Homo sapiens: one gene and its partner. The protein of the gene in region 1 interacts with the protein of each later gene in a pairwise test. Each region holds a gene or a part of one and is shown in the gene's direction. Other genes may lie near its edges.

What was found. The genes of interacting proteins can lie anywhere in the genome.
Region 2: the proteins of MYO5B (region 1) and RAB11B interact in binary tests that used the Homo sapiens proteins (3 or more experiments, as listed by UniProt).

The regions. Positions count from the first base shown.
Region 1 is NC_000018.10:50,193,413-50,197,158, reverse strand, and holds the start of MYO5B (unconventional myosin-Vb), read left to right. Parts: upstream 1-2,011; 5' UTR 2,012-2,365; coding exon 2,366-2,392; intron 2,393-3,746. UniProt on the Homo sapiens protein: May be involved in vesicular trafficking via its association with the CART complex. The CART complex is necessary for efficient transferrin receptor recycling but not for EGFR degradation.
Region 2 is NC_000019.10:8,400,233-8,403,978, forward strand, and holds part of RAB11B (ras-related protein Rab-11B), read left to right. Parts: intron 1-1,853; coding exon 1,854-2,047; intron 2,048-2,252; coding exon 2,253-2,333; intron 2,334-3,180; coding exon 3,181-3,326; 3' UTR 3,327-3,746. UniProt on the Homo sapiens protein: The small GTPases Rab are key regulators of intracellular membrane trafficking, from the formation of transport vesicles to their fusion with membranes.

The DNA.
Region 1 (3,746 bases):
CACCTCCCAGGTTCAAGCGATTCTCCTGCCTCAGCCTTCCAAGTAGCTAGGATTACAGGCATGCGCCACCACGCCCAGCTAATTTTTGTACTTTTAGTAGAGACGGGGTTTCACCATGTTAGCCAGGCTGGTCTTGAACTCCTGACTTCAAGTGATCGGCCCACATTGGCCTCCCGAAGTGCTGGGATTATAGGCATGAGCCACCACACCCGGCCAGAACAGCAGCTCTTAAACTTGGCTGCCATTAGAACCATCTGGGAGCTCTTCAGAATCCTTTCACCCAGGGCAACACCCCCCAGACAAGTTAAATCAGAATTTCTGGGAGTGGGAACCAGACATCCACTTGTTTCAAAAGTGATTCTGATGTGCATAAAGTGTTGAGAATCAGAGAATTAAGGAGGTACTGGGCGTAAGTGGAGATAGCTAAATAAGTGAAGCTACTGCTTTAAGAAGTTTAGCAGGAGAGGAAAACACAAAAAGCCAGGGGCCAGTGGAGAGAGGAAGAGTTGCTGGTAGAGAGATGGGACCACTAATGGTGGTGGAGGAAGAGGCCAGGATCTAGGCAGGACTGATGACTTTCTTATTCAAAAAGGGGAGAATCACCTGGAGGCAGAAAGAACAATGAGTACTGGCCCCACACCAGAGTTTATGGTTCAGTAGGTCTGCAGTGGAGCCCAATAACTTGTATTTCTAACAGTTACCAGGTGATGCTGATGGTGGGCGTGGGGGGTGGGGACACACTTTAAGAGCTACAGGAATCCGGGGAAGGGAAATATGCAGAAAAACTTTTGAGGAAGAGAAAAAAATCCCTTTCTGCTCTTGCCACTGATGTGAAGAGTTCCATTTTTAGGTCCAATGAGAGCCGCCCAAGCTTTGGTCAATGCATTTGTCACCCTGGAAGTACCATCCTTTAGACTTTCAGAGGAGCTTTAAAAATTGGGATACCCAGGTCCCATCCTTCATTATATCAGAATTCCTTGGGTTGGGGCCTCTTCCTTGGAACGCTTAAAGCTCCCCATGTGACTCTCATTGTGGAGGTGCCCATGGGAAGGCCTGCACAGGTGAATTACAACGGGATCTTGAGTTCCAGGTGGGATGCCTCTGAGAATCACCTTCTGGGGCTCTTGAACAACTGCCCCGGCTGGTACAGATATATCTTCCGGTTGAGAACCACTTTTCAGGGGCCACCCCTGGGTCAGGGACAGATGTCAGCTTCAGAAGGGAGTGTCTCCTCTGACAGCCCCTCGTCTCCCTCCACAGACTTCTGGCAGTTTTTTTTTTTTTTTCTTGGTTGAAATTTCTACTTTTCACTGGAAGTAGGAGAGGAGCTGAAGTTGCTGCAGGCAGCCAAGTGCCATGGTCAGAGAGGGAACACAAATAAACGAGGTAGTGAGTGGCAAAAGGACCCGGAGTCTGCATGTAGACGAGACGGGGGTTGGGAGAACGTGAGACTTCCCGGAAAAGCAGAAGCCCTCTGAGATGAGTGGCCTGGAGTCTCCTTGGAGGCTGTGGGCGAAAGTGGACAATATTTGTACAGAAGGAGTTACGACTCCCACTTTACTGACAAGGATTTCCGCGCAGAGAGTTCAGTTTGAAGGAGAAGATCCCTGGTGTATGTATATCCAGGTCGCCTTAATAACGATCTACGAGTAACTGAATTTTAATCATGAAAGCGCTGAATACAGCCAGGTAAAATCGAGGGCAATGTCTGGGGCCTTCCAGCCATAGACGCTTCTCTTTTTTCCCCCCTCTCTGGTTAGTTCCTCTTCCCTTTTCTTGTCTGCACCGCGTTCATGCCGGACTCCGCGGGGCCCGGTGCGGGTGGAAGCGGAGCGCGGCAGGGCAGGTGCGGGCGCCGGGGCGCACCTGTGCCTGCGCGCGCGCGGCGTCCAGCAGGGGGCGGCCCGCGCCGGTCCCGGAGCTCCTCTCTGAGCGCCCCGCCCCCGGCCCGGAGGCCCAGGTGGCAGCGGGGGCGCGGGAGGGCGCGTCGGGCCGGGCACCGGCAGGGCTCAGAGGCGCGGCGGCGCACGGGCCGTCCGCTCTGACGCGAGCGGGTCCTCCCTCCTCGCCGGCCCTCGCCTCCTCCCCACACCTGGGAGGGGAGTGGTGCGGCGCGGCCTCCTCCCCCGGCGCTCGCAACTCCTGTCCGGCCGTAGCTGCGCCGCCGCGGCGGGAGTAAAGGTCGCGCCGCCGGGAGCGAGCCGGCCGCGGCGCCTGCGGGAAGCCGGCGGGGCAGGTCGGAGAAGAGCGAGAAGATCGAGAAACTCCAGGCCAGCCCGGGAACATGGCGCCAGGCGGGCCAGCCGCGGACTGAGAGCCGCGGGGCAGCCAGGAGCCGGGGCCCGAGCCCCGCCCGGCCCGGGCCATGTCGGTGGGCGAGCTCTACAGCCAGGTGAGCGCGGCCGCGAGGGAGGCGCCCCGGGGCCGGGGTGGCGCGCTCGGGGCCACCTAGTACTCAGGGTCGCCTTCTCCCTCGGCTACTGGAGGCGGGAGGTGACGGGAGACCCCCCTCCGCGGTGTCCTCCTCGTCACTGTCCTCGGAGTCCCTAACTTCGGTTGGCGGAGAAAGTTTGGCGGTTCCGGGAACGCCCGCACTGACCGGCCACCCGGCTCCTAGAGGTTCCGCAGCGCCACGGCTCAGCACCAAGCCAGGGCTGTCGCCCCCTCCCCGCCGCGCCCCTCACTTTCGTTGCCTGGGCTCGGCTCCAACCGAGTTCCCCGAACGGCAGGGCGACCCTGCCAGCTCTGAGCGCCGTGCGCGGGACGGGCCCCCGCGGTGCTCCCGCTGCTGTCCCCTGTCCCCGCCGTGGACCCCACCCCAGGGGCTCTGCGGCGCCGGCTCTCGAGGGCGCGCCTCCGAGGCGTCCTTTCCTCCCGCATACCCACAACAGGGAACCCTGGACTTGGGAGAGGTGGGGGTTCTGGACTTGGTGGAGAGGGAGGAGACAACCTGGCGTGAGGGCGCGGCGGCTGGATGGAGTGAGGGTAAGCAATGGGTAGAGGGGTGCGCCGTTATCTCCGGAGACCCCAGGGAAGAGCATTGTGAATTTGCTGGGGATGGATGTTTTGACGCGGCCTCTTTGGTACAAAGAGGGCTTCAGTGACTGCGGGGAGGGGGTTGGAGTAAAGTCGAACCGGGAGCAGGGTGTGAGTTTCAGGATGCCTTCAAGGTCAGAAGGGATGTGTGAGGCTGGGTGCTCCGAATCGGGAACAGGTGCAGCCCGGGCGGAGACGCCCGCGTTCCGCAGCAGTTGCTGTGGTTAAAGTTAGGGACAAGCCACCGCTTCCAGGGGAGCTCGCGGCAGCGCTGCAGCCGCCCGGGACCCCTCGAGTTTCAACCTGGAGTCAGTAGTGAGAGGGGCAAAGGCCTTTTCTTCACATGTGCCCTATGCACCTTTAAGAAAACAAGTTTTGGATAGTCCAATGCCTGGTTTTCCTGTTCGTCTTCTTGGGTGGCCAAAACACGTTTAACAGTGCCTATGCACACGCCTCCATGCAGAGTTGTGTGTGCGTGTGGTGTCCACGCGCGTTGCGTGGGTATGCGATTCCCGGGACACCCGCCCGGGCCAACAGGTCTGGGCTGGGTAGGAACAGTCACTTCCGCGTCCTTACCTGGCGATCACACGCGGCTGTCTAGCCCATGTGGGAGCCCTTCGGCTCCGTGGGCTGGCCACCCTTCTAAGTTTGAGGAATTATTCAACTCTCCCATTCCTCCTGGAGGGGAGCAGGGCCGGGATGAGTTCATG
Region 2 (3,746 bases), on another chromosome or scaffold:
CCAGCGCCCAGCCTTCGCCACACCAGGGTATCTCTGGGTACCAAGTGCAGTGAGGACCTAGCTCAGGCCACTCCGCCTTGCCGCTGCCCCTGCCCAGCCAGCATCCCAGCCTTCCTCCTCCCTCAGCTTCCCTCCTCACTGGTGCCCACACCTGGTCCCACACGCCTCCTGTCCTCCCACCTGGGCCTGGCCTCCATTCCCTGCAAAGGCTTCCCAGCCATCAGGACCCACTCAGCTGCCTTTTTCTGGACCCCTCCCAAGCCCCCCAGCCATTCCCACCACCGTCTTGAGATCCTCTGGGCTCCCTCCCATCTCCTTCATCCCTCAGGTACATCTGTCTCTCTGTCACCTCCTCTTGTTTTTTTTTTTTTGAGATGGAGTTTCACTCTTGTCGCCCAGGCTGGAGTGCGATGGCACGATCTCGGCTCACTGCAACCTCCGCCTCCTGGGTTCAAGCGATTCTCCTGCCTCAGCCTCCCAAGTAGCTGGGATTATAGGCACATGCCGCCATACCAGGCTAATTTTGTATTTTTAGTAGAGATGGGGTTTCTCCACATTGGTCAGGCTGGTCTCAAACTCCCGCCCTCAGGTGATCCACCCTCTCGGCTTCCCAAAGTGCTGAGATTACAGGTGGCGTGAGCCACCGTGCCTGGCTGTCGCCTCCTCTTTTTTGGAGACAGACAGGGTCTTGCTCTGTCGCCCAGGCTGGAGTGCAGTGCCACAATTGCAGCTCACTGCCCCCTTGACCTCCCAGGCTCAAGCGATTCTCCTGCCTCAGCCTCCTGAGTAGCTGGGGCTACAGGCCTGTGCCACCATGCCTGGCTAATTTAATTAATTAATTTATTTATTTTTTAGTTTTAGTTTTTGAGACAGAGTCTCACTCTGTCGCCCAGGCTGGAGTGCAGTGGCGCAGTCTCAGCTCACTGCAAGCTCTGCCTCCCAGGTTCACGCCATTCTCCTGCCTCAGCCTCCTGAGCAGCTGGGACTACAGGCGCCCACCACCACGCCTGGCTAATTTTTTGTATTTTTAGTAGAGATGGGGTTTCACCGCATTAGCCAGGATGGTCTCGATCTCCTGACCTCATGATCTGCCCGCCTCGGCCTCCCAAAGTGCTGGGATTACAGGCGTGAGCGACCCTGCCTGGCCTATTTATTTATTTTTTTGAGATAGAGTCTCACTCTGTCATCCAGACTGAAGTGCAGTGTCACAATCTCGGCTCACTGCAACCTCCGCCCCCCGCCCCCCAGGGTTCAAGCAATTCTCCTGCCTTAGCCTCCCGAGTAGCTGGGATTACAGGCGCCTGCCACCACGCCTGGCTAATTTTTGTATTTTTAGTAGAGATGGGGTTTCACCATCTTGGCCAGGCTGATCTTGAATTCCTGACCTCGTGATCCACCTGCCTCGGCTTCCCAAAGTGCTGGGATTACAGGCATGAGCCACGACCCCCGGCCAATTTTTGTGTTTTTCTAGTAGAGATGGGGTATCGCCATGTTGCCCAGGCTGGTCTGAAACTCCCAGCCTCAAGTGATCCACCCGCCTCAGCCTCCCAAAGTGCTGGGATTACAGGCATGAGCCACCATGCCCAGCCCCTTCTTCCCTTTTTTTGATGACCTCACGGTATCTTCTATTTCCAGCTCCCAAACTCCCTCCTCAGACCCCCACATTTCAGAGCTGGATCCAGGGAGCAGCGCTGGGGCCTCCAGACACACACCCTTCCCTTGAGGCCACAATGACTGCCCCTTGGCTCGGCCCTGGACGACCCACCCTGGGCGTGATGTGTGCTGTTATCCCGTGAGGCTGCCGCTGCCCATGGTTGTCCTCCAGAGAGGCTCATGGGCCCCTGACCCTGCAGGTACTACCGTGGTGCAGTGGGCGCCCTGCTGGTGTACGACATCGCCAAGCACCTGACCTATGAGAACGTGGAGCGCTGGCTGAAGGAGCTGCGGGACCACGCAGACAGCAACATCGTCATCATGCTGGTGGGCAACAAGAGTGACCTGCGCCACCTGCGGGCTGTGCCCACTGACGAGGCCCGCGCCTTCGCAGGTGAGCAGACGGAGACGCAGGCATCAGAGAGGTGTCTGGAAGGCAGGAGGCCCCTCACAGTGTTGGGGCCCTGGCCACAGCCCTGGCTTCCCTTCCCTGAGGAGTGGCCTTGGGATGGGCCAGGTGGGTGGGCGGGGTCCCTGAGAGCATGTGGGAGCCTGTCACCCTGCCTCCCCACTCACCTAGGCAGTATTCTTTGTTCCAGAAAAGAACAACTTGTCCTTCATCGAGACCTCAGCCTTGGATTCCACTAACGTAGAGGAAGCATTCAAGAACATCCTCACAGGTGGCCGGGGACCAGATGGGTGTGGGTAGGGCACCAGCCAGGCAGGGTGGAACACGGCCTCTGAACCTTCGCTTGTTTTGTTCGTTTGCTTGTTTTTTTCTTTTTTTTGTCGGGGCAGGATGGATTTTTGCTCTTTGCCCAGGCTGGAGTGTGGTGGCTCGATCTCAGCTTACTGCAACCTCCGCCTTCCAGGTTCAGGCAATTCTCCTGCCTCAGCCTCCCGAGTAGCTGGGATTACAGGTGCCTGCCACCACACCCGCTAATTTTTGTAATTTTTAGTAGAGACAGGATTTCACAATGTTGTCCAGGTTGATCTCGAACTCCTGGGCTCAAGTGATCCTCCTGCCTCAGCCTCCCAAAGTGCTGGGATTACAGGCGTGAGCCACTGCACCTGGCCTGTTTGATTTTTTTCCACCACCACCCCTAACCTTTGCTTTTTAAACCTGCCGGTCCACCTGGACACTTCACAGGGTCAGACCAGGTCTAGCCCTTGCTGGCACTGGGGACACAGAGACCCCCTGGCCCCAGTTCCTGGGGATGGGCCCTGCCTTAACTCTTGGCGCTGCGGGGAGGCGGGTAGCCTCAGGGACCTGGAGCCTTTTGGCTTCTGGGAGTTTACCTCTGAGGGAGGAGGGCGCTTCTGATCTTAGGGAGCGAGAGGCCGGGGCTGGCTGTGACCAGATGTGGGTCCTGGCTGGGTGCGCAGCCCCTGTCCTTGTTACCCCTGATGTGATGGGGGCGCTGTGGGGGTCTGGAGAGGGCCTCTGGAGTCCTGCAGGGAGGGGTTCCCCTCGGCAGGCAGGGCACGTGCTGGCTCACCCCACGTCCCCCTGTACCCCCTTTGCAGAGATCTACCGCATCGTGTCACAGAAACAGATCGCAGACCGCGCTGCCCACGACGAGTCCCCGGGGAACAACGTGGTGGACATCAGCGTGCCGCCCACCACGGACGGACAGAAGCCCAACAAGCTGCAGTGCTGCCAGAACCTGTGACCCCTGCGCCTCCACCCAGCGTGCGTGCACGTCCTCCGCCCGCCCCCGCCACGGTATCCTCTGGCCCCTCCCTGCTGTCCCTCTGTGGCCGGCTCGTTCCAGCCCTCCCAGTGAGCTCTGCACGGCCGGGCCGGGGCCCAGGAAGGACAGGAGCCAGTGCTACCCCGTCCTGCCCGGGGAAAAGCTAGAAGCCCCGGTTTGCTGCACCCATGAAACTCGGGTCCCCACAGCGTCTTGGCGGGGTGGGGAGGGCGGCAGGATGGACGGGGCTGGCCAGAGGCGAGGAGGACGGGCGGACGGCGCCGCCTTCTCCCCTTTTCCTTGGCCGACTCTAGGGAGCGATTGCCTCCCTCCCTCCGTGACCGGGTGGCCCAGCCAGCCCGTCGTCCCCACCCAGAACCGTGCTCTGGGCCAAAGCCC